7 separate regions of the Homo sapiens genome follow, and all the other regions are linked to region 6. Evidence: fine-mapped expression QTL. A gene starts in region 6. Each other region holds a variant in brackets. All regions are shown on one strand. Distances are between the middles of the regions. Region 1 has its middle 27 kb from the start of ZNF117. Region 2 has its middle 11 kb from the start of SNORA15B-1. Region 3 has its middle 140 kb from the start of ZNF92. Region 4 has its middle 40 kb from the start of ZNF273. Region 5 holds the start of LOC441239. Region 6 holds the start of ERV3-1 (endogenous retrovirus group 3 member 1, envelope). Region 7 overlaps LOC105375334 (a long non-coding RNA gene).

Evidence for each region. PIP is the estimated chance that this variant, and not a neighbour inherited with it, causes the effect.
Region 1: its variant is fine-mapped to the expression of ERV3-1 in whole blood (INTERVAL, PIP 0.98).
Region 2: its variant is fine-mapped to the expression of ERV3-1 in whole blood (TOPMed, PIP above 0.99).
Region 3: its variant is fine-mapped to the expression of ERV3-1 in cerebral cortex (GTEx, PIP 0.97). The same link has a PIP of 0.9 or more in hippocampus.
Region 4: its variant is fine-mapped to the expression of ERV3-1 in pancreas (GTEx, PIP 0.94). The same link has a PIP of 0.9 or more in thyroid.
Region 5: its variant is fine-mapped to the expression of ERV3-1 in spleen (GTEx, PIP 0.95).
Region 7: its variant is fine-mapped to the expression of ERV3-1 in prefrontal cortex (BrainSeq, PIP 0.95).

What each region holds. Positions count from the first base shown.
Region 1 is chr7:64,962,397-64,966,463 of GRCh38, forward strand. No RefSeq gene overlaps it. Among named protein-coding and RNA genes, the nearest start is that of ZNF117, 27 kb to the right of the region's middle. The variant TA/T (reference allele first, on the strand shown) is at 1,768.
Region 2 is chr7:65,079,217-65,083,283 of GRCh38, forward strand. No RefSeq gene overlaps it. Among named protein-coding and RNA genes, the nearest start is that of SNORA15B-1, 11 kb to the left of the region's middle. RefSeq lists an enhancer at 1,379-2,273. The variant C/G (reference allele first, on the strand shown) is at 2,073.
Region 3 is chr7:65,507,926-65,511,992 of GRCh38, forward strand. It overlaps the pseudogene LOC101929322. Among named protein-coding and RNA genes, the nearest start is that of ZNF92, 140 kb to the left of the region's middle. RefSeq lists an enhancer at 1,262-2,260. The variant C/T (reference allele first, on the strand shown) is at 2,115.
Region 4 is chr7:64,861,655-64,865,721 of GRCh38, forward strand. It overlaps the pseudogene EEF1DP4. Among named protein-coding and RNA genes, the nearest start is that of ZNF273, 40 kb to the right of the region's middle. The variant G/A (reference allele first, on the strand shown) is at 1,708.
Region 5 is chr7:64,888,662-64,892,728 of GRCh38, forward strand. LOC441239 reads right to left here and starts at 1,439. Exons shown (of 3, transcript XM_011516745.3): 1 at 791-1,439; 2 at 405-526; 3 at 1-156. The coding sequence starts at 1,078. It also overlaps a transcript of ZNF273 not described here. RefSeq lists enhancers at 1-403, 1,122-1,838. The variant C/A (reference allele first, on the strand shown) is at 2,360.
Region 6 is chr7:65,004,631-65,008,697 of GRCh38, forward strand. It overlaps ERV3-1 (endogenous retrovirus group 3 member 1, envelope), which reads right to left and starts at 2,057. Exons shown (of 2, transcript NM_001007253.4): 1 at 1,911-2,057. ERV3-1-ZNF117 (ERV3-1-ZNF117 readthrough) reads right to left here and starts at 2,116. Exons shown (of 4, transcript NM_001348050.2): 1 at 1,911-2,116. It overlaps LOC105375330 (a long non-coding RNA gene), which reads right to left. Exons shown (of 6, transcript XR_927607.1): 6 at 4,044-4,067. RefSeq lists an enhancer at 1,988-2,047 and a silencer at 2,148-2,317.
Region 7 is chr7:65,301,092-65,305,158 of GRCh38, forward strand. LOC105375334 (a long non-coding RNA gene) reads left to right here. Exons shown (of 6, transcript XR_927613.3): 2 at 2,438-2,711. Among named protein-coding and RNA genes, the nearest start is that of ZNF92, 71 kb to the right of the region's middle. The variant C/G (reference allele first, on the strand shown) is at 1,749.

The sequences.
Region 1 (4,067 bases), 42 kb before region 6:
AATACAAAATCCATGTGCACATATTAGTAGCTTTGCTATATACCAAAAGCGACCACGCTGAGAATCAAATTAAGAACTCAACCCCTTCTACAATAGCTGCACAAAAAATAAAATACTTAGGAATATACCTAACCAAGGAAGTGAAAGACCTCTACAAGAAAAACTACAAAATGCTGCTGAAAGCAATAGATGACACAAATAAAAACACATCCCATGCTCATAGATGGGTAGAATCAATACTCTAAAAATGACCATACTGCCAAAAGCAATCTACAAATTCAATACAATTCCCATCAGAGTACTGACATTATTCTTCAAATAACTATGAAAAAACAATCCTAAAATTCATATGGAACCAAAAAAAAAGCTTGCATAGCCAAAGCAAGACTAAGCAAAAGAAACAAATCAAAAGGCTTCGTATTACCCAACTTCAAACAACACAATAAGGCCACACTCACCAAAACAGCATGGTACCGGTATAAAAATAGGGACATAGACAAACAGAACAGAATGGAGAACCCAGAAATAAACACAAATAGTTACACCCAACTGATCTTTGACAAAGCAAACCAAAACATAAAGTGGGTAAAGGACACCCTATTCAACAAATGGTGCTGGGATACTTGGCAAGCCACATGTAGAAGAATGAAACTTGATCTCATCTCTCACCTTATACAAAAATCAACTCAAGATGGATCAAGGACTTAAATCTAAGACCTGAAACTATAAAAATTCTAGAAGATAACATCAGAAGAACCCTTCTAAACATTGGCTTAGTCAAGGATTTCATGACCGAGAACCCCAAAGCAAATGCAATGAAGACACAGATAAATAGCTGGGACTTAATTAAACTAAAGAGCTTTTGCATGGCCAAAGGAAGTGAGCAAAGTAAACAACAACCCACAGAGCGGGAGAAAATCTTCACAATTTATATATCTGACACAGGACTAATGTCCAGAATCTGCAACAAACTGAAACAAATTAGCCAGAAAAAAAAAATCTCGTCAAAAAGTGGGCTAAGGACATAAATAGACAATTCTCAAAAGAAGATATAAAAATGGCCAGGAAACACATGAAAAAATGCTCAACATCACTAATGATCAGGGAAATGCAAATCAAAACCATAACGTGATACCACCTTGCTCCTGTAAGAATGGCCATAATAAAAAAATAAAAAAATAATAAATGTTGGTGTGGATGGAGTGAAAAGGAAACACTTCTACACTGCTAGTGGGAATGTAAACTAGTACAACCACTATGGAAAACAGTGTGGAGATTCCTTAAAGAACTAAAGGGAGAACTACCATTTGATCCAGCAGTCCTACTATTGGGTATCTACCCAGAGGAAAAGAAGTTATTATTTAAAAAAAAAAAAAAAAACTTGCACACGCATGTTTATAGCAGCATAATTTGGAATTGCAAAAATGTGGAAACAACTCAAATGCCCATCAATCAACAAGTGGATAAAGAAACTGTGGATATATATACATATATATATATATATATGTATGTGTATATATATATATATGTATGTATATATATAATTGAATACTACTCAGAAATGGAAAATCAAACATTGTATGTTCTCACTCATAATTGGGAGCTAAACTATAAGGATGTAAAGGCATCAGGTAAAAGACTACAAATTGGGTTCAGTGTATACTACTCAGGTGATGGGTGCACCAAAATCTCAGAAATCACCACTAAAGAATTTACTCATGTAACCAAATACCACCTGTTAAACAAAATTTATGGAAATAAAAAACT[TA/T]AAAAAAAAAAAAAGACTGAAAGCGAACTCAGTTCATCCAGCCTTGTTTTCTCATTTTGCAGGAGAAAGGTTGGAGACAGTGCCAACTTCACATAGCCTTTAAGAGATCAACTCCAGACCTCAAATCACACCCTCTGACCCCAAGCCAATGGTCCTTTTTTGCCTCCCAGTATTACTCTGTCTCTTCAAACAAGAAGAAAGAGCCAAGTTGAGAAGGAGAGTGGTCACACCCACACCTAGATTCTATTCTCCTGGGCACTGCCTTCCCTGTGGGACCTACCTATTTAATTCCAGTGCTCATGTTATGCCCAAACCCTGGAAGAATGTGACCTTTAAATCTCTGTGCACCCCAGGAACTAGCAGACATTAAAAGTAATAATAATGGGCTGGGCACACAGGCTTGTGCTTGTGGTCTCAGCTATTCGGGAGGCTGAGGAGGGAGAATATGTTAAGCCCAGAAGTTCAAGGCTGCAATGAGCAATGTTTGCGCCATTGCACTCCAGCCTGAGTGCAGAAAAAGTAATAATGACAAAATAAAAAGAGAAATTTACCAATTACTAAGGAAGTCTAGAAAGGCTAGGTGTACCCCCTCTAAATCTAAAATAACAGTTTAAAAATAAAAATATTTTATTGGTAAAAATAAATAAGATAAAAACCACTTTCTTTTTACCCTGAGATAGTATGTAGAACTTGATTTTTGGTTGAAAGCACTTATTACTAAGCCTAACACAAATAATTTGGCAAATGGGTTCTAACAATAATATGTCTCTCATGACTTAAAAAAGCCACTAATTTTACTTTTGAAATATATTTAATTTTTATATTAAAGCTAAGATGAACCTATTATTACATAGAAAATTTGTGGTCTGCATATGCCTCCCCATCCACTGAGTGGTCTACAGTTTCTGAAAGTTTCAGAAACACTAATATAAGAATACTTTTTCTGATTGAATAATTTAAGGATATTGTTTTCTCAGTGACTAAAATGAAATAGATTGGAATTACAAATCAGTCACTTACAATGTAATTTTAAATGTTATTTAATGAACACGTGAAGTTTTTTAAAACTCATCTGAATAACTTATTTCGATTGACTTTTTTCTATTAGAAAATATATTAAAATTTCTGTTACTACAAGCCTATGAATTTTATTCAAATCTAAATATAGTGCTAATCTTAAAAGATCTCTTTGTTTAGGATTATGAAAGCCTATTCTCTACATACACTCAGAAGATAAATAACCGCTTTCCAGTAAACTCAATGGGGCAACTGTGACTCACAATCATAACCTATTAAAATATTAATACTATTATCTAGGTAAAACTTTTAGGTATCTGCATGTTCAGGTTGTTTAACTTATATAATTCAGAAACTATAAATTTTTATAATCTATAAAAACATTTAAAAAGATAAAGTATCAATTTCTTTTTGTCAGTTTTGAAATACTGACATTATTTCTAGTTGACATAACACTAGAATTCAGATGCTGTGGCTGTAGAAAATAGAAATGTCATGGTTTACTTGGTTTTACTTCCTACCTTCCTATTTCACACAAACAAAGCAGCACAAGGGAAGCCAGAAATGCTACACCTTGATTGCAAAAAAACCAGAACCCTTCTAGAGACAATATATGTGTCAGCATAATAACTTGAAATTCATGGCATCTTTTGTTGAAGTAGAGGCTCCAACAAGAGGCTGAATTAATCAACAAAAGGCTGAATTAATTTGCATTCTCACAAAGACTGTGTAAACATTCCCTATTCTCCACAACATGCTATTTTTTTTTTTACTTTTTAATAACAGCCATTTTAACTGGTGTGAGATGGTATCACATTGTCATTTTGATTTAATCTCTTTAATGGCTTGAGATGTTGGGCAACTTTTTGCATGTTTCTTGACAGCTTTTATATCTTCCTTTGAGAAGTATCTATTGATATATTCTGTGCTTTTTTCCTATTACATTTCTTATAGATTTTGTATATTAATTTTTTTGTTGTATGCAGTTTGCAAATATTTTTCTCCATGCTGTAGCTTGTCCATTTACTTTGTCAAATTTCTTTTGCTGTGCAGGAGATCTAGTTTAATTAGGTGTCAATTTATATTTTTGTTGCATTTACTTTTAAGGTGTTAGTCTCAAATTGTTTTCAGAGGCCAGTGTCCACAAGAGTACTTTCTAGGTGTTCATATAGGATTTTCATAGCTTGAAACTTCATGTTCAGTTTTTAATCTATCTTGAGTTACATTTTTTATATGCTGAGAGGTAAGAGTTGTTTTTTTCTTCTGCATGTGACTAACCATA
Region 2 (4,067 bases), 75 kb after region 6:
TTATTCAGATGAAGAATCTGAAATCCAAACAAGTTTGACTGACTCTGTCAGTCAGTGGATGAGCTTGGCCTGGAACTGAAATCCCTGGGCTCTTGAGCCAGTCTGTGCCTTTTCCATTACACTGGGCATAGCACTGAGAAATATAAGCAAATGCCAGTCACTCAACAGAACCCTCTTCTACATGCGGAAAGGGATTGGGAGAAGGGACATCATAGTAGAGAGTCCCTTAAATTCCCCTTATAGGCCAGGTGTGGTGGCTCACACCTCCAATGTGAGCTTCCTTTAGGAACCCGAGGCAGGATTGCTTGAGCTCAGGAGTCTAAGACCAGCCTGGCAACATAGGGAGACCCTATCTCTGCTAAAATAAATAAGTATATAAATATACATATTATATATATAAATGTATATATAACAATCCATCTTACCCTGACAATCTGCCTGCTGAAACTTACTAAACCATACCAAACTATATGAATTTATTTTTATTGTTATTATTTTTTTTTGAGACGGGGTCTGGCTCGTCACCCAGGCTGAAGTTCAGTGGTATGATCTCAGCTCAATACAGCCTCTGCCTCCCGGGCTCAAACCATCCTCCCATCTCAGCCTCCTGAGTAGCTCGGACTACAGGTGTGCACTATAATGCCCAGCTTATTTTGTGCTTTTGATAGAGACAGGGTTTTGCCCTGTTGCCCAGGCTGGTCTCGAACTCCTGGGCTCAAGCAATCCTTCTGCCTTGGCCTCCCAAAGTGCTGGGATTATAGGTGTGACCCACTATGCCTGGCCTTGAAAATCCATTTTATTTTATTTTTTTAATTTATTTATTTTTTTGAGACGGAGTCTCGCTGTCACCCAGGCTGAAGTGCAGTGGCACGGTCTCGGCTCATTGCAAACTATGCCTCCCGGGTTCACGCCATTCTCCTGCCTCAGCCTTCCCAGTAGCTGGGACTACAGGCGCGCGCCATCACGCCTGGGTAATTTTTTTTTGTGTGTATTTTCAGTAGAGACGGGGTTTCACCGTGTTAGCCAGGATGGTCTCGATCTCCTGACCTCATGAACCGCCCGCCTCGGCCTCCCAAAGTGCTGGGATTACAGGCGTGAGCCACCATGCCCAGCCGAAAATCCATTTTATTTATTTATTTACTTATTTAGGTGTGACCCACCATGCCTCGCCTTGAAAATCTTATTTATTTATTTAGAGACGGAGTTTTGCTCTTGTTGCCCAGGCTGGAGTGCAATGGCGCGATCTCGGCTCACTGCAACCTCCACCTCCCGGGTTCAAGCAATTCTCTGCCTCAGCCTCCCGAGTAGCTGGGATTACAGGCGCCCGCCACCACGCCTAGCTAATTTTTGTATTTTTAGTAGAGACGGGGTTTCACCATGCTGGCCAGGCTGGTCTTCAACTCCTGACCTGGTGATCCACCCACTCGGCCTCCTAAAGTGCTGGGATTACAGGTGTGAGCCACCGCACCCGGCCAGTCCCTTATATAAATTTTTAAAAAGATGTTTTCTTCGTTTCCTAGCCCCTTCTACCCACCTACAAAGTTCCAAAGGCTTTAATGCTATTGCAACGGCAGTCAGAGGTCAAGCTGGTGGGGGTGCGGTGCAGCTCCCTAACGCGGGGCAGCCTCAAAGGGGGCCGACCCTGCCCAGCACGAATGGCACCGGGCGGTGGGGGACGCTCCCGAGGTCCCGGGAACATGGCTGGGGGAAGTGTTGGGGGGTGCACATACCCAGGCTCAGCTGAGGCGAGTGCGCGGCCAGGGCTGCAGCTGGCGCTGGCTGGCACTTGCGCCGGCCATTGAGGAGCTTCTGGGCGACCCTGCACTCGTGCCTACCAGGCGCCAGCCGGTAGGTGCGCAGCGCCTGCTCCAGCAGCGTCAGGCCTTTGCTGCGCGGACCCCTCAGGCCGGGAAGTCACGCAGGTGGTAGTAGTCCAGGTGGTCGTAAACTCCTCCTCATAGCTTATGGGTGGTGGCGGCTGGGCTGAAGACGGCGGACAGGACATCCCGCCCGGCCGCCTGTGGTCACCCTCCCGCGCAGGCGCTCTCCTGGAAGACCCAGCACCTGGAGTT[C/G]CGATTGGCTCTGCGTGAGGGGCGGGCCTTTGCGACATCTTGGGGGGCGCCTTCGGTGACGTCACAGGGGCGGGCCTTCTGTCACGTCACAAGGGCTGTACAGTGCCTGGAGCTGGGCAGTCTTCTCAGAGTGGAGCCTGGTAACCGCGACCTCCCCGCCAGTTCCTGTGTGTTGCTGGCTGGAAAGGGGTAGTTGACAAACTCCCACCCAGCACAGTATTTATGTCGGTCAAAAATGGAAAACTATGTGTCCGGGCGTGGCCAGGAAGGAGGATCCCTTCAGGCCAAGAGCAGCCTAGCAATATGGCGCAACCCCACCTCTGTAGTCCAACCTCAGCCTCCCAGCTACTTGAACCCCAAGATTCAAGGCTCCAATGATCTGTGATCTCACCACAGCACTCCTGCCTGCGAGACTGAGGTAAACCCTGTATAAAAAAATAAAAAAGAAAACTATGCAAGTGTACAACCGGGAGGGACTGCTTAAAGAACACATGAGGCTGCCTGGGCCGTGCTATCCCGGCACTTTGGGAGGCCGAGGCAGGAGGATGGCTTGTGTTCAGGAGTTCGAGATGCGCCTGGGCAACATGACGCAACCCCGTCTCTACGGAAGATACAAAGATTAGCCAGGCGCGGTGCACGCTTGGCCTAATTTTTGTATCTTTCGTAGAGATGGGGGGGTCTTGCTATGTTGCCCGGGCCGGTCTCGAACTCCTGGGTTCAAGCGATCTTCTCACCTTGGCCTTTAGAGTTGTTGGGATTACAGGCGTGAGCCACCGCACCCTCCTGGGCTAGGCTATTTAATAACATAAGAAAGTGCGGTGGCTCACGCCTGTAATCCCAACACTTTGGGAGGCCGAGGCGGGTGGATCACCTGAGGTCAGGAGTTTGAGACCATCCTTGCCAATATGGTGAAACCCAGTCTCTACAAAAAAATACAAAAATTAGGCCGAGCGCGGTGGCTCACACCTGTAATCTCAGCACTTTGGGAAGCTGAGGCGGGCTGATCACCTGAGGTTGGGAGTTCAAGACCAGCCTGACCAACATGGAGAAATCCCATCTCTACTAAAAATACAAAATTAGCCGGGCATGGTGGTGCATGCCTGTAGTCCCAGCTACTCAGGAGGTTAAGACAGGAGAATCTCTTGAACCCAGGTGGCGGAGGTTGCAGTGAGCCGAGAAGCATCACTGCACCCTAGTCAGGGCGACAGAGCAAGACTCCAGAGCTTGAGACCAGCCTGGGCCATGTAGTGAAACCCTGTTTATACAAAACAAACAAAAAAAGCCAGGTGTACCTGTGTCCACCTGTGGCCCTGCTACTTAAGAGGCTGAGGCAGGAGGATAAGTTGAGGCCAGGAGCTGAAGGCTGCAGTGAGCTATGGTCATCCCACTGCTCTCCATCCTGAGCAATAGAATGAAACCTTGTCTCTAGATAGCTAGCTAGCTAGGTAATTGATACGTAGTTTTCTATCGGAAATCTTTTTCCTAGACTTGAACATGTTTTTCTAAAGTAGCATTCAACACATCAGCATTTTACAGTGTTATTAGTTGTTAATATGATTATGTTTTTCTGAAATACAGTATTCTTTACCAAAGCAGTGTTGTCTTTCAAAGCACATACATAGGTCCTCCAGTGAATTTGTCTGATGTTGGCGACCTTCACTTTCTGGTGACTGAGTCAACAGTATCTGTTTCATAAATAATGTAGCCCTATTTTTTTTGAGACAGGGTCTTGTTCTGTTACCTGGGCTGGAGTGCAGTGGCATGATCTCTGCTCACCATAACTACCGCCTCCTGGGTTCAAGCGATTCTCCTGCCTCAGCTTCCTGAATAACTGGGATTACAGGCGCCACCACATCTGGCTAATATCTTTTTGTTTTTGTTTTTGAAACGGAGTTCGCTCTTGTTGCCCAGGCTAGAGTGCAATGTCGCCATCTCGGCTTACTGCAACCTCCACCTCCCGGGTTCAAGCGATTCTCCTGCCTCAGCCTCCCGAGT
Region 3 (4,067 bases), 500 kb after region 6:
GAGCCACCACACCTGGCCATGTGCATGAACTTTTAAGACAAACACAAGGCCCCACAAAAGGTAAGGTTTTCCCACCTAATTTCCAGGGGATCTTTTGGTGCAAGGATGAGAAGCCCTTAAAAGTACACAGACAACTCCAAAGATTCAAGACAGTTCATTCGGGCTGAGCCAGCCCACTGGGCAGACAGACCTTCAAGAAAGGCCCACGCATGACATACACCAGATGGCTCTCCAAGAATCGCTTCAGTCCTCAGGGTCCCTAAGGTACTGGACAGAGCTAGGAAAGCAAACCCATTTGCTTCTTCCTGCACGAAACCCCTTGAGGTCAAGACCCCACAATCAGACGAGGATGGAGTGGCTCACCCTCAGTCAACAGGCCAGACTCAAGGTGGTATAATGACTTAACCAAGGGTGTGGGACTCCAGGTCTGACTCCCAACTCAGTTCTCCTTTAATAACCACACTTTGGTAATTCTCCTTAACAGGGGTTCCTGGCAAGTCAGTTCTCCCTCGGGCCTTTGGTTTCCTCACCTACAAGATGAGAGGGCCGGACCAGATGGAAATTCGGGGGTAAGGGGATGTCCGCGCGCAGCCCACCCTCACCCTCCCCGCCCCACGGGACCCTAGCGCCTCCATCCCAGTTCCCACCAAGCACCCGCCCCACAAATCCTGCCCAAGGTGAGGGCTGGTCCCGGGTCTCTCGGCTGCCGCATCAGCGAGTGCAGGAGGGAGGGGAAGCCTCCAAGGGCGCGACGCGGGCTCAAGGATGCAACTCGGCCAGGAGTGAACTGGGGCCCCAAGGGAGGTGTCCGGGCCGCTGCTCGAGCCCAGCCCGGGTCCCCAAACCCCTTACCTCCAGGGTCCGTATCTCCTGCTCGGTGAGGTCGTTGGACACAGCGCACTTGGTGCGCAGCCCGCGCAGGCTGCCAATGGAGATGCCGATGAGCTTCTGGAGCTGTCCGCACTGCTGCAGCCCCGGGCTGGCCGGGGCCCCTGCGCCACCCTCAGCGGCCGCTGCATCACCCCCGCCACCGCCCTCCTTCTTCTCTCCCATCGCCTCCGCGCGCAGTGCCGCCCTATGCAGGCCACAGCGGCCGAGGCAGGGAGCCCGGGGCTCGGGCGCCTAGGCAAGGAACCCCCGAGCCGGGAGAGCCCCTCGGCGCTGCCCTTGCCAGGACGCCAGTAGAGCTGGCAGCGGAGTCTGCCGCTCCCGCCCTCAGAGCCGCGGCGGCGGGAGCAGAAAGCCGCGGCGGCAAAAAGCGGCGGCGGGGGCAAAAAGCCGCGGCGGCAGGGGGCAAAATGCCGCGGGAGCAAAAAGCCGCGGCGGCGGGGGCAGAAAGTCGCGGCGGCGGGGGGCAAAAAGCCGCGGCGGCGGGGGGCAAAAAGCCGTGGCAGCAGAAAGCCGCGGCGGCGGGCGCAAAAAGCCGCGGCGTCGGGGGCTAAAAGCCGCAAAAAGCCGCGGAGGGGGGAGCGAAAAGCAGTGGGAGCTGGGGCAAAAAACCACAAAAAGCCGAGGCAGCGGCGGCAGAAAACCTCGGCAGCGGGGGCAAAAAGCTGCAGCGGCAAAAAGCGGCGACGGGGGCAAAAAGCCGCGGTGGCAAAAATGCGCGGCGGCGGGGGAAAAAGCCGCGGCGGAGTGGGGCGAAAAGCAGTGGGAGCTGGGGCAAAAAAACCACAAAAAGCCGCGGCAGCGGCGGCAGAAAACCTCGGCAGCGGGGGCAAAAAGCCACGGTGGCGGGGGTAAAAAGCAGCGGTGGCAAGAAGCCGCGACGGTGGGGGCAAGAAGCCGCGGCGGCCCAGGCAAAAGGCCGCAAAAGCCGCGGCGACGGGGGCGAAAAGCCGCGGCGGCGGAGGCAAAAAGCCGCGACGGCAGGGGGCAAAAAGCTGCAAAAGCCTCGGTGCGGGTGAAAAAAGTCGCGGCGAGAAAAAGCCGCTGAGGCGGGGGCAAAAAGCCGCGGCGGCAGGGGCGAAAACCAGCAAAAAGCCGCCGCGGTGGGGGCAAAAAGCAGTGGGAGCTGGGGTAAAAAACCACAAAAAACCGCGGCAGCGGCGGCAGCAAGCCACGGCGGCGGGGGCAAAAAGCCGCGGCGGCAAAAACCCGGGGTGGCAAAAAGC[C/T]GCGGCGCCGGGGGACGAAAAGCTTCAAAGGCCGCTTCGGCGGGGGCAAAATAGTGGAAAGGAGGTAGAAGGCTGGCACAGCTTGGCATTGCTGGAGTGTGATGTGATAGGAAAAGTGCACCCGAAAACAAAGATGTAAGTGGGCTTGACTCAGTGCAGCTAAGAACCTAGATGTTATCTTGAGGGTATTAACTAATAAGCAGTTTAAATCAGAATGGCACATTCTGATTTGTTTTTTGTATGTTCACATTTGGCAGACATAGATACTGTTTGAAGAGAGGAAAGTCAGTAAATAGACGTAACAAACTTGAATATGTGCAAAGTCTAGAAACAAGAGACTAGGGGGATAAGAACCTTTCAAAAATGCAAGATTTGAAAACTGGCTGGGGGATGAGGAAAAGGCAGGTCTTTAAGGTCAATCCTTGTTTTGCTTTAAGTTGTTAGGGGGTGGTTTTATCACATATTGTAGAATATGTCATTTCAGTTTTGAACATCTTGAGTTAAATTGTCCTAACATATCTTATGAATTTGGTTTTCTTCCCTGGGAAGCTGATATTTCAAAAACTTAAAGACTATAGATTTCCAACTTGTATCCAATTTATAAAATTATCTCTAGGCTGCTGGTTTCAGGAGGAGGCTCACTGAATATTCTATTTGCAGAGAATATATCAGGAGTTAACAGCCTCAATTTTTGTGGACAACCAGTTAACTAAGCCACCTCTTAGTGTATTTAGTTGGGAAATCTTAGCTGAAGATATTCATTAATGAACCAACAGTGACTAAAAAATTCATTATTTAAGTACATTTCATTGTAATTAATTTGAATTTAAGTAGCCATATACAGCTAGTATTTACTACATTGAACAATGCAAATAAGAGGAAAAAATTAATAACCATCTCTAATATCACATGCCAAAATCCTAATCAATTTATTCTAGCTAAAGGAGTTTATCAGAAGCAGCAATTGAAAGTACCAACTAAACCAGTTGGGGTTAATTCACTGTCATTCTCTCAGAACCATCTCTTCTCTGAACAAAACAAGTACAAGAGTTAATTGTGAATCTGCATTTTCCTTGCCTATTTTAAGGTTTGGATGTTGACACTAATTTGTGAAATCCCGCCTGTGGTGTGATATTTGATTTTCCTTGCTTTTTGTTAGGGCAAGAATGCTTCAGCTCTTAATTTAAAATTATGTTTCTCCCTCCTAGGTTGAGTGAACTTAGAATGCATTCTCTGACATATCCAAGTTTTTGTTAATATGGATCTGGGGAAAAAAGCATACTTAATTAGCTAAGACTTCTTATTCTAGGCTTGACCCTGTGTTCGACATCTTTTGAATTTGTAGTTGCATAGGCTGCTCTCTGACACTGGTTGGTGATCTTGAAGCTATATTAACATTAGGGGAGGTGGTGTATTAGCATTAGAGGTATCCTTGCAAGGAAAAACTTGTCTTATCTCAATACGTCTTTTTTTTTGCACACAAGAAAGTCAATGTTTGAGTCTTCTAAAATCTTCCTATTTCCAAGTTGCAGAGTACCATTGATTCCTAAACAAAGATCTAATTTTTGACTCAGAGACGTGGCAAGGTAGTGAATAACCATTATAATTTAACAACCTTCAAGATAAAATTATCTCTCTGATATTTAGATTTTGCCCGATTATTAAGATATTTGAGTGTTTCTTTAAGAATGGAACACTCTAGTCTCTTGAGCAGAGATTATAAAGGCCTCAGATGATCATTTTTTATGCTCTTTTCTTTAACACCTTCAACACAGTTGGAAGCAGCCAATATTCCCCAGAGTTGTTGTGTTTTTTAAACCAAATGCATGGTTCAGTGGTAGAAAACTGGGCTGATCCAAGCTGTTTTCAGTAAACACTTCATTTCAGGTGACCTATTTCATATGAAATAATCTCTAGATCCTGTCTTCAAAACTAACTAGATCAGATAACCTA
Region 4 (4,067 bases), 140 kb before region 6:
GGTGGCGGGCGCCTGTAGTCCCAGCTACTTGGGAAACTGAGGCAGGAGAATGGCGTGAACCCGGGAGCCAGAGCTTGCAGTGAGCCGAGATCGCTCCACTGCACTCCAGCCTGGGTGACAGAGTGAGACTCCATCTCAAAAAAAAAAAAATTTTTTTTGGTATATTGAGGAAAGAATATGTTCTAACTGATGTAACTTGAGATTTCTCATAAGATGTTATTGTCTGCCACACAAGAAAATTGTAAAATATTTTCCTCAGGTATATGCTGTTGATATTTGTGCATTTTGGAAAGATATTATATATTTGGAAATCTTTAAATATAAAAATAATTTACATGCTAAAATTCTGAGAAAGTTACAAGAACCTTTAAAATCCTGAGTAGAATATAAAGAAACATATGAGAACTTTCCAGGTACAAAAGAAAGCCAAAGGAAGAATCCAGAATGTAATTAAACTAAGAAGCAATTGTTCTTCTTAGATATGGGTGAACACACAAATAAAAAATTTCTGTGGGTTGTCCAACTTGCCATTAGACAAATGAAAAAATAACAACATAAGGGAGGAGGGATAGCATTAGGAGAAATACCTAATGTAAATGACGAGTTAATGGGTGCAGCACGCCAACATGGCACATGTATACATATGTAACAAATCGGCACATTGTGCACATGTACCCTAGAACTTTTAAAAATCACCCTAAAAAAAAATAAAAATCCTTTTCTACAAAAATAAAAATAAAAGTAACAACATAAACTAACTGCAGACATTGCAAACGTAATATCTTTCACAAGCGAGAAACAAATTACAACTTATATTACCCACAGTTACAGGACTTAGGTTTAAAATGTTTAATCCAACACAATGGGGAAAACAGAAAATATACCAATAATGTGAAAAGTACAAGAAGCTACAAGGGTGACAAGTCATATTTGTTTGTTTTTTGTGCATGTGGGGGTTTTTTTGTTTTGTTTTGTTTTTTTGTTTTTTGAGACAGAGTTTCACTCTTGTCGCCCAGGCTGGAGTGCAATGGCATGACCTTGGCTCACCACAACCTCTGCCTCCTGGGTTCAAGTGATTCTCCTGACTCAGCCTCCCAAGTAGCTGGGAATACAGGCACCCACCACCATGCCCAGCTAATTTTGTATTTTTAGTAGAGACGGGGTTTCTCCATGTTGGTCAGGCTGGTCTCCAACTCCCGACCTCGGGTGATCCACCCGCCTCGGCCTCCCAAAGTGCTAGGATTACAGGTGTGAGCCACCACACCCAGCAACAAGCCATATTTGAAAAACAGCCAGCCTTTCCTCAGGCGTCCCGCATCTGCTGATTCCTCCTTCCTGGTCACTGCGTCCTTGGCTGGCATCAGAAAAGTGGCTACAAACTTCCTAGTACATGAGAAGATCTGGTTCAACAAGTTAAAATGTGACAATGCAGAAAGGAGATTCTTCAAGCAGATGAACAAGGCTGTGGCCAGCACCTCCCGCCAGGAGAACGGCGCCAGCATGATCCTCCATGACATTGCGAGAGCCAGAGAGCATTTCCAGAAATCCCTGGCCAGAAGCTCAGGCCCCGGGGCCTCCAGCAGCCCCAGCGGAGACAAGGCTGAGCTCATCTTTCAGATCACCAGTCTGGAAGTGGAGAACCAGAGCCTGCGCAGGGTTGTGCAGGAGCTGCAGCAGGCCATCTCCAAGCTGGAGGCCCCACTGAAC[G/A]TGCTGGAGAAGAGCTTGCCTGGCCACCACAGCCCTGCAGACCCAGCACGAGTCTCCTATGTGCCAAGTGGAGCCCCTGGCCAAGAAGCCAGCCAAACCAGCAGAGGATGACAAGGACGATGACATTGACCTACAGGGGATAGGCCCCCAAATCTGGCCATAAATTGGCCCCAAAACTGGCCATAAACAAAATCTCTGCACTACTGTGACATGTTAGTGATGGGCATGACAGCCATGCTGACAGTTGTGGGTTTACCGGAATGAGGACAAGAAACACCTGGCCCACCCAGGGTGGGAAATCCACTTAAAGGTGTTCCTGAACTACAAACAATAACATGAGCGACCTGTGCCTTAAGGACATGTTCCTGCTGCAGATAACTAGCCAGAGCCCATCCCTTTGTTTCAGCCCATCGCTTTGTTTCCTGTTTTAGTTAATCTATGATCTATAGAAACAATGCTTATCACTGGCTTGCTGTCAATAAATATGTGGGCAAAACTCTGTTTGAGGTTCACAGCTCTGAAGGCTGTGAGTCCCCTGATTTCCCACTCCACACACTATATTTCTGTGTGTGTGTCTTTAATTCCTCTAGCGCCACTGGGTTAGGGTCTCCCCAACCAAGCTGGTCTTGGCATTGACCTGTTTGGCAGTGACAATGAGGAGGAGGACAGGAGGCAGTACTGCTGCGGGAGGAGCGGCTGCGGCAGTACACAGAGAAAAAGGCCAAGAAGCCCATGCTGGTGGCCGAGTCGTCCATCCTGCTGGACATTAAGCCTTGGGATGATGAGACTAACATGGCCCAGCTGGAGGCCTGTATGTGCTCCATCCAGCTGGACAGGCTGGTCTGGGGGGGCCTCTAAGCTGGTGCCCGTGGGCTATAGTATCCAGAAGCTGCTGGTTCAGTGTGTAGTGGAGGATGACAAGGTGGGGACAGACTTGCTGGAGGAGGAGATCATCAAGTTTGAAGAACACGTGCAGAATGTTGACATTGCAGCTTTCAACAAGATCTGAAGACTGAGTGTGAGTGTGTGTGTGTGTGTGCACGCGTGCATGTGCTTGAGGCCCCGCCATGATTAAAAACTGAGACCGGCAAAAAAAAAAAAAAAAAGAAAAGAAAAGAAAAAACAGCCAAATGTGAAGTAAACAATTGAAAATATAATCAGTCTACTTAATATACAACATATGTGTGAAACATTAAATTAGTCTGAAATGATGAGAAGATTAGTGAACTAGAACACTAAGCAGTAATTAATTACTGTAAAGACAAAAGGAGAAAAGTTATATTAACAAAATCTAAAATATACATGTATGACAGGGAGCATGAGATGGAGTAAAACAAGTCTGATTATTTTTATAGAATATATTTTCAAAATCAAAGTCAGTATTCAGAGTTGGTGACTCATAAGTTTCTAAAATTGAAAAGCAGACATAATTACTTCTCAGCCTTTTGGCTAAAATCAAGTGAAAACCAGATATAAGTGCTTGAATTCAAATGTGCAGTGTTCCAAAAAGAGAAAAATAACAAAATTAATTCCTTAAAATAAAAAAATAAATTACTTAAAACGGGCTGCATAACACCAAGGAGAAGAAAAACACTACAAATCTGTGAGAAGAATAAAGATAATTTACAAAAATGAAAGTAAAGTTTTCAAACCTTGCACAGAGCCAAAAATCAGAGAAATAAATGTTAAAGGAGCTGAGAGAAATTATCATTAAAGTTAGAAATGCATACTTACACTGCAATATTTTTAACACAAATGGGTAAATTAAAATACTTTCCAAAAAACCCACTGGTTTGGTTTTCAATAGGATTCTCTTAAAAGCATACCTAATAAAAATATTGTTTTATTATTATACTTTAAGTTCTAGCGTACATGTGCACAATGTGCAGGTTTGTTACATCTGCATACATGTACCATGTTGGTGTGCTGCACCCATTAACTCGTCATTTACGTTAGGTATATCTCCTAATGCTATCCCTCCCCCCTGCCCCCAACCCAAAAATATTTTTTGTATCTAAAGTTGAAGAAGAAAATGAAAAAGTACAAAAATTGATTTGGAAGCTGGCATGTTCTTTCTCAGGATTTTAGGTAACCGGCAATCTTTCACTCTCATACAACACTCTAGAGTTTAAAAAATATTTTTCTACCTATCTTTTCTCTGATCTTTACATCCTGTGAGGCTCTGCAAAATAGGGGCTTGTGTCCCATTTTGCAATTTAAAAAGCCGAGGCTCAGACAAATGTCACACAGAAAGTTTGGGACAGAACTGGGACTAGAACCCATGACTTGCAAAGTAGTGCTCTTCTCATCCCTAAAGCAGTCATAGGGCTAGGAATACATTAAGACAACAAAAGATAGAG
Region 5 (4,067 bases), 120 kb before region 6:
GCCGCGTCTTCGGCAAAGTCTTCGGGGTGAGAGGTCCGGCTCCTGGAGGACAGCGGGATGGGAGAGTCCCGTTCACACCCAGCCCCGCAGAGCCGGATAGAAACGCTGCCACTGCCGACTCCATGCTGCCGGGAAGTGCACTGTGGAGGCCACTTTCTGGAAAGAAGAAACCGTCTGAACACAAAGTTGCTCAAGCCATGTTCATCTATCTGCCAGGGAAACGGAGGCCCTGAGTGCCAGAGTCCAAGTCACCCTGCAAGAGAAAACTCTGGTGGAGCCCAGGGTGTCCAGCCCCTGTCCACCCAGCCGCCGTGGTCAAGGTTAATAAGGGCAAGGGGCCAAGCAGAACCGCCTACAAGGAACCGAGTGTCCACAAAGCAGGAAGCGAAGAACGTTTCTCCTACCTAGAGCGCAGCCGTTTTGCGGAAGGCACAGTCCGGGCTCCGGGAGCCAAGCAGGGATCCGGGCCTCGTTGCGGAGGGGACGCCCGGGCTGAGCTGAGCTCACTTGCTGGCGGCGGCAGCCCCTGCAGTCATGGGGTCACCGGCTTGTGGAGAGGGGCTGGCGCTGTTCCTTGGCCCCGCTCCCCGCCCGCAAAGGGCCGGGAGGTCGGGCTCCCGGCAGTGTCCAGGCTCTCGCCCGCCGGTGCCTGAGCCGTACCCACCGCGTCCCCTCCGCCCCAACAGCTGGTGCTGAGGGTCCGGCCCGGGGTCATCTGGCAGGGCCGTGCGGCTCCTGCGGGTGACCAGGAGCGCGGAGCCCCTTCCCACTCGGGCTCGGGTGGCCTCACCTTTCCTGGGGCTGCGTCCCCGCGGGACGCCAGGTTCCCGGTTTCTTCTAGGTCGCCCTGGTTCCTGGCAGCTCCTGGTGCCACGCGGTCCTCTACGGTCTCCTCTGACCTGAGAGGGACAGTGAGATGGGGCTGGCGGGGATGGGGGTCCCCGCGCTGTTGGAAAGCAGCGGGGCTGCTGCTGACCGGAGCCGCCTGGGTCTGTTCTGGAACCGTCGCCCTGGGGCCCCTCCGCCCCGCAAACGCTCGGGATGCGGTTTGGGAGTGTAGCTGGACACCGAGCACCATCCACGCTCAGCCCCACGGGGCTCCAGGAGTCCCGAGCCCAAGCCCCTGCACTTGCATTTTATTTAAAAAACCTGAGGGTTAAATTCGGGCAAGTCAGTTGCCTCAGTGTTTGTCGCCTGCTGCCTCTATGTCGGCTTCTTTTGCTGGCAGTCAGAGACCAAGCCCCCACGCCCTCCAGGACCCTCTATCTGGTGAGGCCACCTCTGCAATCATGAGCAGCACTGAGGTGCTTCCGACCAGGGGTCACTGCCCCAGCCGGTGAGAGGCCCTGCAGTGGGGACTGGAGATGTGCGACGCAGCCTCCCAGAGCCCGCATCCTCTTGCCCAAGGAGGCTGCACACCCTCACTCAGGGCTGTGAGGGGGAATGAGGGCAGCTCACAGGCTAAGGGGCCGCTGAAGACAGGTTTTGTGGACAGGTGATTTAGGAGCCTGGAGGAAGCAGGTTAGGGGTGTGTGTGTGTGTGTGTGTGTGTGTGTGTGTGAGAGAGAGAGAGAGGGAATTCTCCCATGCCAGGACATCTGCGTGTCTCAGTAGAGTAGGAGTGAACAGCAGCATCCCTGCAGAGGAGCAGCATGTGGACAGAGTCACAGGCTGGCTGGATCACAACAAATCCTTGTGGGTCAAGGAGAGCAGGTTCCGTGATCAGCTGCGGTCTGGGTTTTGTGTTTGCCTTTTCCTGCTGTTCCAATAAGCCAGGGCACTGGGGCCAGATTGCCCTCAGCCATGGCCAAGGGTTCCCTGACAAGCTGGGGAGGACGAACTCCCTTCCCAACACAGGGACATAGAAGATCAGAGCAGCCTGCCCAGTGGGGATCTGAGCTCAGAGAGTGGAAGCCACTGTCTCAGAGTCACAGAGCAGGTCAGTGGCAGGTCCCATGTCCCTGACCCCCAAGCTCTATTTCTCTGAGGAAATATTCCATCCAAGAGCATGAGAGTCCTCTGAGCATGGACTCCCTGGCAGGTGAGGTCATTTTACCTGTTATCTGTTTTCATCCTCATTGTGTGTGTGGTTTGTATCAGTGTCCCCATTGTAAGGCAGAAAACAGGCTCAGTGATGGGGCAAAGGCTGGTGCAAGGCTACAGAGCTCAGAAGTGGCTGAGGTGAGACAAGAACCAGCAGGCTTCCTTCACCGTTGCTCTGCTCCATCTGGAGGTTGGACAATTTGCCTGTGTGCCAACAGCCACAAGCCTTTGTTGGCTCAGGGTAGATATGAAAACCTGGAAACCATGAAGCTTTCAGCCCCACTCATTTCTGCAGGGGCAGATGGCTGTGCTTGGC[C/A]TGGGCTCCCCATTGCTCAAAATAGAGCCTCCTCTTTCTGCCAGTGGTCCCAGAAATGAGTCACAGGTGGGTGAGGTTGCAGCCAGGCCTGGGCAGGATGATGTCTTCTGGGCTAGGCTGAAAACTCAAGCCTTGCAGCTGGACAAGTTATGACTTTGGTTCTGCCTCAGTCACTCCGAGGCTGGACAACTCTGGCCATATCTCTCTGTAAGCTGTGGTTTCCTTATCTTTAAAATGGAGACAATGGCACCTCTCTCCCAGAGTAGCCACTGGGGCTTAATAAAGCCTCAGCATGAGAAGATGGTGTATTTGTATTTGTGAGTTTTCCTTGGTCTATGGTGACCTTCCTGTGGGTAAGAACCAAGTATCACTTGGCTCAGGACCCAGACAGGCACAGCACAGCCAGAACCAGAGGGGCCTAGGCCTGGGTATGATTGGAATCCAGGCATCTGGCCCAGTTTTTCTGGCTCTGTCTCCTTCCCCATCTTTTCCAAACTGGTCCAAGGATCAGATTTGCCATGTCACCCAGACATCGTTGTGGCCCTGTCTGAACAAGCAGCATCAGAATTTCTCTGGTGCCAGCTGGATGACTCAGAGAGAAAAACTGGTCACCAATTTCTGCTTCAAGTGGGTAGGGAAGAAAGCTACCACTTGCAGCTACTTATTATGTATCACCAGCCAGGCACTTTTCCTACTTAGTGGTCACCTCAGCTAAGTCATAAAGACACAGAAAAGAGTGCCTTGCCCCAGGTTCACAGCTGATAAGTGGGGTGTGGGAGAGGAGGTGCTGAAATCCACATTTATCTAAACCTTTCAGACCCATGTGCATTTCTCCATTTTTACCACATTGTCCCCTCCTTGGTGACAGCCTGGGCTGCTGCTCCTGCCTCTCACTGGCCTCTCTGCCTCCAAGCTGCCTGTGCCTTAGGAAGCTCCATGTTGCACTTTCAAACCAGCAGCCCAATCCATCCCTCACCTACTTGTGCCTTTCAATGACTCTCATTGTCCTCAGAAAATGACCCTGGCTCCTAGGTGTCCACACCTCTGTGGCCCTGAGCAGGCTGACAGAAATAAAACTGCATGCCTCCTTTCCTTCCAGTGAAAAGAAATCACTGGATATTGCAACAAAATTTAAACTTATCATTTGGGAGAAATCAGAGTATCCTCTTTCATAGACAAAAAAAACAGTATTCAACCCTAAAAGGAAAGAAAACAATTCTCTTGAATGCTGCCACACTTGGAAAAACAATGGAAAATAAACACTGGAACCAGCTAGACCTGCCAGAGTTGCTGAGGGAGGATTAAATGAGTTATTATGTAATTTGCTTAGCAACAGTGCTTGGCTCATAGTTAGTGCTCAGTAATATCAGCTATTCTTTTTTTTATTGTAAATAGAAGAGAAGCTAGGAATGAATCCATGACCTTGGATGGGCATCCTCTGTCTTCCCCAGGACAGGGGTTCAGTGTCATTTTCCAGGAACCTAATGAAGCAGCCTTGTTCTTCTGGGGTGATACCCGAGATTTGTTGCCTAATGGTCATAAAAAACTAGGATGTGGACACACAAGAGTGAGGTTAAGAGCAGAAGTTTAATAGGTGGAAGAAAGAGAAAAGCTCCCTGTGCTGCAGAGAGAGGGGTCCCAAATGGGCTGCAGGATCCACAGTGAAATGCATGGGATTTTATAGATGCCTGATGAGGGGGGCGGTGTT
Region 6 (4,067 bases):
AAACCTTTTCAAGGTGACAAACCCAGGGAGCTACGGTGCTCATTAAAAAACAGATGTGTTTGACTCATATGTCAAGTCAGGCCACCCAATCCCTTGAGAGATTCTCCCACCCCCATCCTGCTCACTTAAGTGCTCAGTGACCACCCTCTCCAGAGACACTGTACTAGGCCCCATTGAGTGCCCCAAGGTGCATTTCACTTTGCAAGTTGCTGCACCATCTCACTGGGGCCAGGTTTGATTTTTTTTTTTTTTTTTTTTTTGTCTTTTGGGATACTATTTTCTCTTTCATAATTCTTGGAGAATCCAGGTGGCAGTAATTATTTGTTTTTCCCTCATTACCACCATCTGATTGGCTGACCAGCAATGTGTCTTCGAGAAATGGAACCCGGGTTGCTTGAAGACAATCTTAACTTCTCTAAGGGTTTGCTTTTCAAAGGAAGAGTACCCCAGGAGACTCCTCTCAGCCTCAGGGCATCCACCTGCTCCCTTGAGAGGCTACACTCCAACTTCAGGCTGTCCTGTCTCCCATTCCCAGATATGCGAAGTTTCATTCCAGGCCAGGAGCTGAAATTTACTAGACATTGTAGCATACACAGCCACAGTGGATATCTTGATTTATCCCCAGACAGTACTGAAACCCAGAACCAGGGAAAAAACTGAAGGGTGGCTGAGGACACATTACCTTATAAAGTTTCCAAAGGGAAACCCTGACCCAAAAATATTCTGATAAGGTTTCTGTGGCTAGAGGCAATAAAAGGAAAGGAGGCACAGAACATTTTTTACAATACAGTGTCAGGGGATTATTCTTTGCTTTCTTCTCTTGGGAAATCTTTACAAACAGAAAACAAATCTTTTTTAAAATGCCAGCCAATGCTTTGTCAAAAAATGATTAATTAAAATATGGTACCTAAAATGTACACTAAAGTGTACATTAAAGGACAAATAGTTGATAATGTGAATTAGGGAGGGGAAATTGGCATTTGGGAATGTCAGAAGGAACTGGAAATTTAGTATTTTACTGCAAGCCAGAGTTAGGCTGGAGGAATGGGAAATGGGGAGAAGTCTTGAGACCCTGCTTGAGACAGAAGTGAAAAATGCAGAGGAAAATCAGTGCCCTGTGGAGTGTGAAAATAATTAAGTGGCAGGCAATTAGACTGAGGTGGCTCCAGTCCTAGGGTTGCTACTTGCAAAAAAATCTAACTCGAATGATTTTTTTCTAAAGTATTACATTGGGGGAAAATAAAATTCAGGCTTAACCAACTATAAACTGCCAATTAACCTCTCATTACATGACCAGGGAATTTCCACCTTGATCGTACAAATTAAGAAACTACATAACTTTACCTAACCAATTATTGAATTTGCTTTCCTTTATCATGCACTTTATAAAAGTGTTTTCTTCAAGCCCCTTCCATAAACCACAAACTACAAAACATAGCTTGGTGCTCTACAATTCTTGAATTACTCTTTAATTAAATTCTTTAATATTTCTGCGGAGACTTCCACAAATTTTTAATAGAAAAAAAGGGGGACTGGGAACCCCGCAGACCAAAGCTCTTCCCATTCATGAACTCTGCATCCTGAGTCAGTATTCTCCCCTGACGACCGTCCAGTGGTCCCTGCACAATCGGGGAGAGCTGCGGCAGTGGGGGCAGAGCTGCCCACAGAGGACTCCAGAACAAGGCACAGTCACTGCGCAGGGAGGAGACAGGATGCCCGGGGTCCGAGCTGTCAGCCCGGCCGCCATCCTATGGCTGAAGGGGACTGAGGGCCGAGCTGCGCCAAGGAGAACTCGGGGCCGCGGATTTTGGAGCCAGCTGCGGGGAGGCCAGAGTCCCGCCACAGCCACTTCCCACCAGTTCCAACCAGCCCCGCCCCCTCTCTCGGGATGTCGGACCCGGCACTCTCACCATTTCTAGGCTTCCAGTGGGTCCTGGCGTCTTAGCTGTGGATCTCCCAATACCTGCAGGTAACGAGGCCACAGAAGCTGGGCCTCTAGGAGCAGAAGACACAGAGCAGTGAAGACTACACCAGAAGCTCCGGCTGCCGCCAGAGACAAAGGCCCCACCAAACCCGGAAGCCGTCCTGTCTGCTCCAGCTGAGTGCCTGATTGGACGGGTCCCAGCCCAGCGTCCCTGATTGGATAATGTTTAGGGCCCCACCCTCTCAGGCCTTGATTGACAGAAGACGTGCTCAGATGCTGGGCTGAATGTAGAGTGAACCCTAAGCCTTTTCAGGCAGAGCTTCCTCCCTGAGCTGACCCAGGCCCTCCCCAGACGGCATTTGCCTTGTAAGGCAACCGTCTGAAATAAAATGTGAGCCATGTGTGAATTCTAAATTTTCTAGTAGTTAAGAAGAAAGAAGAAACAGGTGAAATTCATTCTAACCATTTAATAACCCAATATATCCAAAATATTATTTTAGTATAGGAGCAATATGTAATTATTAATGTAGTGTATATATTCTTGGAACTAAATCTTTAAATCTAACCCTGTATTTTACCTTTCTAGCACATCGCAGTTCAGACCAGCCATATTCCAGCTATCCTGTAGCCACACATGGCCAATAGCCACCACATTGAAGTGCAGCTCTGATTTCATACTTCCTCTCTCTCTCTCCTCAAACCTCCTGTGCTTCCTTCCCTCCCTCCCTTCTGCTAAGCTGATGCTCACTTCTCCAACGTTACTAGAAGCCCTCAGAGTGAATGTTCTTATCTTCCCACCATCCACCGACTGTGTCTCTGTTCCTTCCACTGTCACTGTGTAATAATTGCCCTTCTGCGGCTGGGCATGGTGGCTCATGCCTGTAATCCCAGCACTTTGGGAGGCTGAGGTGGGAGGACTGCTTGAAGCCAGGAGCTTGAGACCAGCCTGGGCAACATAGTGAGACTCCATCTCTACAAAAAAGTTTAAAAATTAGCCATGGGCTGGGTACGGTGGCTCACGCCTGTAATCTCAGCACTTTGGGAGGCTGAGGTGGGCGGATCACCTGAGGTCAGGAGTTCAAGACCAGCCTGGCCAACATGGTGAAACCCTGTCTCTATAAAAATACAAAAATTAGCTGGGCCTGGTGGCGTGCACCTGTAATTCCAGCTACTTGGGAGGCTGAGGCAGGAGGGTCACTTGAACCCAGGAGGTGGAGGTTGCAGTGAGCCAAGAACGCACCATTGCACTCCAGCCTGGGTGACAGAGCGAGACTGTGTCTCAAAAATAAAAATAAAAGTTAGCAAGGCGTGTTGGTGTGCACCTGTGGTCCCAGCTACTCAGGAGGCTGAGCTGGGAGGATAACTTGAGCTCACGAGTTCAAGGCTACAGTGAGGCATGATTGGGTCACTGCACACCAGCCTGGGTGATGGAGTGAGACCTTATCTCTTAAAAAAAAAATGTCCTTTTGATTTATGAAGCCTCGGCCCGGCCTGAGCTGTGGTTCCTATTCCTTCTGGCTTTCCCAAGCTTTTCTTGCCCACTGGAAGTTTCACTGGAGGGTAGAGGACTGGCTCTGTAGTTGGGGACCTAATTGATGCTCTGTTTTCTGTAAAGAGGAATTTTTCTAATTGTCACTTAGCAGGGAGCCTGGCTAGGAATGGAATCTGGGGGCATTACTATTGGTTTACCCTCCTGGGGACCCCTCATCTTTGGTCCATGCATATTCTCCTTGGGGTGGCATCCTGTAATTAATGATCTCTTACATATCACAGCACCTCGAAGCTCCCCCAGACACATCCTCATCCAGCCTCTCACTCTGATGCCATCATTGTCTAGGGACACCTCCGCATAGGTCCATACCATGTCTCAAGCTGCTCATCTCAACAACATTTGTGCTCTAGGAGGTGGAGGTGCCCTAGGGGGCTCCTCACCAAGGGAGTGGGCAGGTGATCCCAGCACTTTGGGAGGCTGGGGCAGGTGATCCCAGCACTTTGGGAGGCCGAGGCAGGTGGGTTATTTGAGGTCAGGAGTTCATGATCAGCCTGACCAACATGGTGAAACCCCATTTCTGCTAAAAATACAAAAAAATTAGCCAGGTCTGGTGGTGCATGCCTGTAGTCCCAGCTACTCAGGAGGCTGAAG
Region 7 (4,067 bases), 300 kb after region 6:
TTTGCATAACTACTCACTTGCCCTCCATTACTTAATTACTAAAACCTAATTCTCAGCGAGGCTTTCCTGGGACCACCTAAGCTTCAGTCCTTAACCACACTTGCATCAGCCTTCCCTCTTCTCCTTATCTTGCCTGGTGCAAACCACAGTGGTGCTCTGCTTGTCTGTTTCTTTGTATGTGTTTGCATTAAGACAGCTGCCTTCATGTCAATTCTAACCAGTTACAGCTATGAGATTTTTTTCACAGCATATAAAATGGTTATTTTCTCATTTAAAATCTTGCACATGTTGACCACAGTATCGTCACTCTTTTGAACTAAATGTTTCTAAAAATACCTTAGATATAAAACTTTAGAACACAGCCAAGAAGTAAAATTTTTTGCAACAGAAATATTAAACTATAATGGTATTTTGAGTATAAAATCTTTAGATAATGTTTTAAAGAGTCATTGCTTTCAAAGTATATTTGAAAAATAAAATTTTTTAAAAATTAGCTTAAGCAATAGATCTTTTTTGGAGACAGAGTTTCACTCTGTCTGGCTGGCTGCCTGGCTGGGTGCAATGGTACAGTCTCAGCTCACTGCCACCTCCACCTCCCAGACTCAATCCATCCTCCCGCACTCAAGCAATACTCTCACCTCAGCCTTCCAAGTAGCTGGGGCCACAGGTACACACCATCACACCCAACTAACATTTGTATTTTTTCTAGAGATGGGGTTTCACCATGTTGCCCAGACTAATCTCAAATTCCTGGGTTCAAGCAGTCCACCCACCTCAGCCTCTTAAAGTGCTGGGATTACAGGCATGAGCCACCACACCTGGCCCTAGACTTTTTTTTTTTTTTTTTTGAGATGGAGTTTCACTCTTGTTGCCCAGGCTGGAGTGCAATGGCGCGATCTCAGCTCACCACAACCTCCGCCTCCCGGGTTCAAGCAATTCTCCTTCCTCAGCCTCCCAAGTAGCTGGGATTACAGGTGTGCGCCACCATGCCTGGCTAATTTTGTATTTTTAGTAGAGACGGTTTTCTCCATGTTGGTCAGGCTGGTCTCGAACTCTCGACCTCAGGTGATCCACCCACCTTGGCCTCCCAAAGTGCTGGGATTACAGGCGTTAGCCACCGTACCTGGCCAGCCCTAGACTTTTAAATGAGAAAATACAAGGACTTAAAGGGGATATATTGTAACATAATAGAAAAAACACACAGAAAGTAAGCAAAAACAACAGAATCACATTTCGATGGTGCTATAATCTAATTTGTTACTTGACATGTTTCACAACTTGCTTTGTGTATCATCACTGCATAATGGCATCTTTGTTAAGGGCTTCCATCCATTCCAACCAGATGTTATTAAACCATGCTCCCTTGTTGCATTCTTGGATAAAAACACCTTCATTCTCATGTGGAAATGATTCCTGACAGTATGCCCTGAGAAATACCCGAAAGAAAGGCAGTTAGTTTTTGTGCTCAGGCTTCTGAGATTTGGCCTAAGTGTCTCTAGTGAGATACATTAGGGGAGGTAAGAACGTGTGGTTGCCTGTGAGTCTCGACCAGTGCTTTTCAGATGGGTGTCTGGGCTGGGGGTAGACTCCGGGTGTCTCATGGAAGGGAGGCTCTGTTCTCCTGCACAGAGGCTGTCACACTGAGAATTGTCCTATGATTCTGTTTCTCTCCCAGGGTCAGTGGAGACTGAGAACCATCAACTTAATATAATCAAAAAGTCAGAATCTTGTTTAGAGTTTAGGTATGG[C/G]AAAATTTAGGGTGGCCACAGGGGAGCACAGATTACAGTTTCCCTGAATACACACTCCTATTAGTGTGACAGGCCAATTTTTTTCTAGCAGTCACACAGACAGGCCTCCATAGCACTCAAGTTATACAGGCAAACTTTCACAGCATCTGCCTTAACATTAAGTTAGTACTTAACCCTAGAAACATCAATCCCTGGACACCAAAGCCAGAAATGAAATATATGTTTGGTAAGAGTCTTGCGCAAGTTTCTCCTAAAACCTGGGGCAAGTCAAGATAATGAAGATAGCCCCACATTCCTTGTACCAGGACCCATCTTGGGTCAAATAAATTTATTGGGCATCTGAGGCAACTCTCCAGACCCAAACCATAGGTAATATAAGATAGAACTAATCACTCCTCTACCAGGGCCCTCACAGATTAAGTAGAGCAAAAATAGGGGACATTTCTTAATCACCCTAGTACCAGGGCCCTCGTAGATTAAGTAGATTTAGGGTACATTTCTGGTCTCTGAGCTTTTAGTTAAAATTATTTACCTGTAGACATAGGTCAGTATGATACTGCACATAAGCATACAGTTTGAAACATATATAAGCAATGGAAAAATGTTTGTTAGTCTTGAGTTGGTCTGGGGAATTATCTTTGACCTCCTCCCTGTACTTGTTTACAGAAATAAACTCTCTTCTTTCCCAGTTTGTCTGCATCTTGTTATTGGGCCACAAGAACACACAGCCAGACCCAGTTTGGTCCAGGAACAACATCTGGCAAGCTAGCCAAGAGTCACTGAAATGGTGCTGCACTCAGTGGCCCGTGATTGTGGCGAGATGGTCATTTGGAGACTCCCAGAAGCTGCTGGATAAGATTGTCCTGGGGACTCTCCCAGGGGCTATTCCATGTGCAAAAACCACATGTCCCTCTCACCACTGGGGAAGAATGGTGATCAGGCAGGAGTGGATGCACTCAAAGGGTGAGTAAAACTGGATCATATGCAGGAAGCCTGTTATTTTCTTATCTGGGCTTATTAAGCCGTTTGGTCTGATACCGTCAGGAAAATAGTAGGGCTCATTTTTATACTCAGTTGCTATTTGGTTAGGAGTAAACCTGAAGCTGATTTCAGATCTGTTTTACCCAAGTACGCTTCCTTTTGTGTTTGTCTGAAACTGTCTCCATGTTCATGTCTGTGGTTTTGTCAGACTTAAAATGGAAAGTGCTGCTTTCCTTCCCTCAGGGAGCCCTCTGGGAAAAATGCTGTCAGATTGGAAATAGTACGAGGTTACCCCCATGACTAAGAGGAAAATGGTTTACTATTGTAATATGGTTTGGCTAATGTATGCTTTAGGATCCAAAAAATGGTGGCCAATTTTGGGGTCTTTAAGCTATTATATCTTTCAGTTACAGCTGTTTTGTCAATGTTTGAGGAAATGGGAGGAAGCGTTTAAAAATTCCCCTACATTCAGGCACTTATGTTGCTACATAACCAAGAGGTTAAAGGGAGTGAGTTAATGTTGCATTACCCAGACAAAGTGTCACCTGACCCTGAGGGAGAGGAAGAAAGAAAAAGAGCTAGAGTCAGCAATTGCTATACATGCCTAATCCAGTAAAAGCTAGTGTCCCACCACCTAGTCAAGAGAGTGAAGAGTCACCACCCCCAAAGTTCAAAGAGGCTACAGACACAGTCTCTCCCTCCTGAACTGGGCAAGGCACTAATTTTGGCTGAGGAGCTACCAAGCCTGGGGCAGGACAATTTCCCTTCTGACAATATCCCACGGGAGTTAATCAGCAAGAGCCTCTGGCTGGATATTACTGAGCATGAAGCCCTTTTCCCACATCTGATTTACTGAATTGGAAAAGTTCCAGTCCTTCCTACAGGGAAGAACCCCAGAAGATGACTGAACAGTTACCACTATTTTTGCCACCCATTGCCCTACCTGGGCTGATGTGCAAGCCCTCCTAAATATTATGCTTACTGCAGATGAGAGAAGGCTAGTATTAGACAAAGGAGAAAAAAAAGCACTTTCATGATGAAAGCCCTGATGATACCCTAGACCCTGATGAGCTGATTCCATGCAGTGACCCAAATTTGGACCCAAATGAGGCCATTGTAGCTGGAGATAATTGTCTGTAGCATTGTAAAAGGTGTATTCTAAAGGACATTAGGTAGGGGTGCTGAGACCTAAAAGTCTGAACAAAGTGCAGGAACTTCAGCAGAAACCTAATGAGGACCCCTCAGAATTTATGGAACAGATCTGTCAAATGTATAGAAAGTATACAGACTTAGATCCACAGGACCCCAAAAATGTCAGAATGGTAAACATGACTCTTA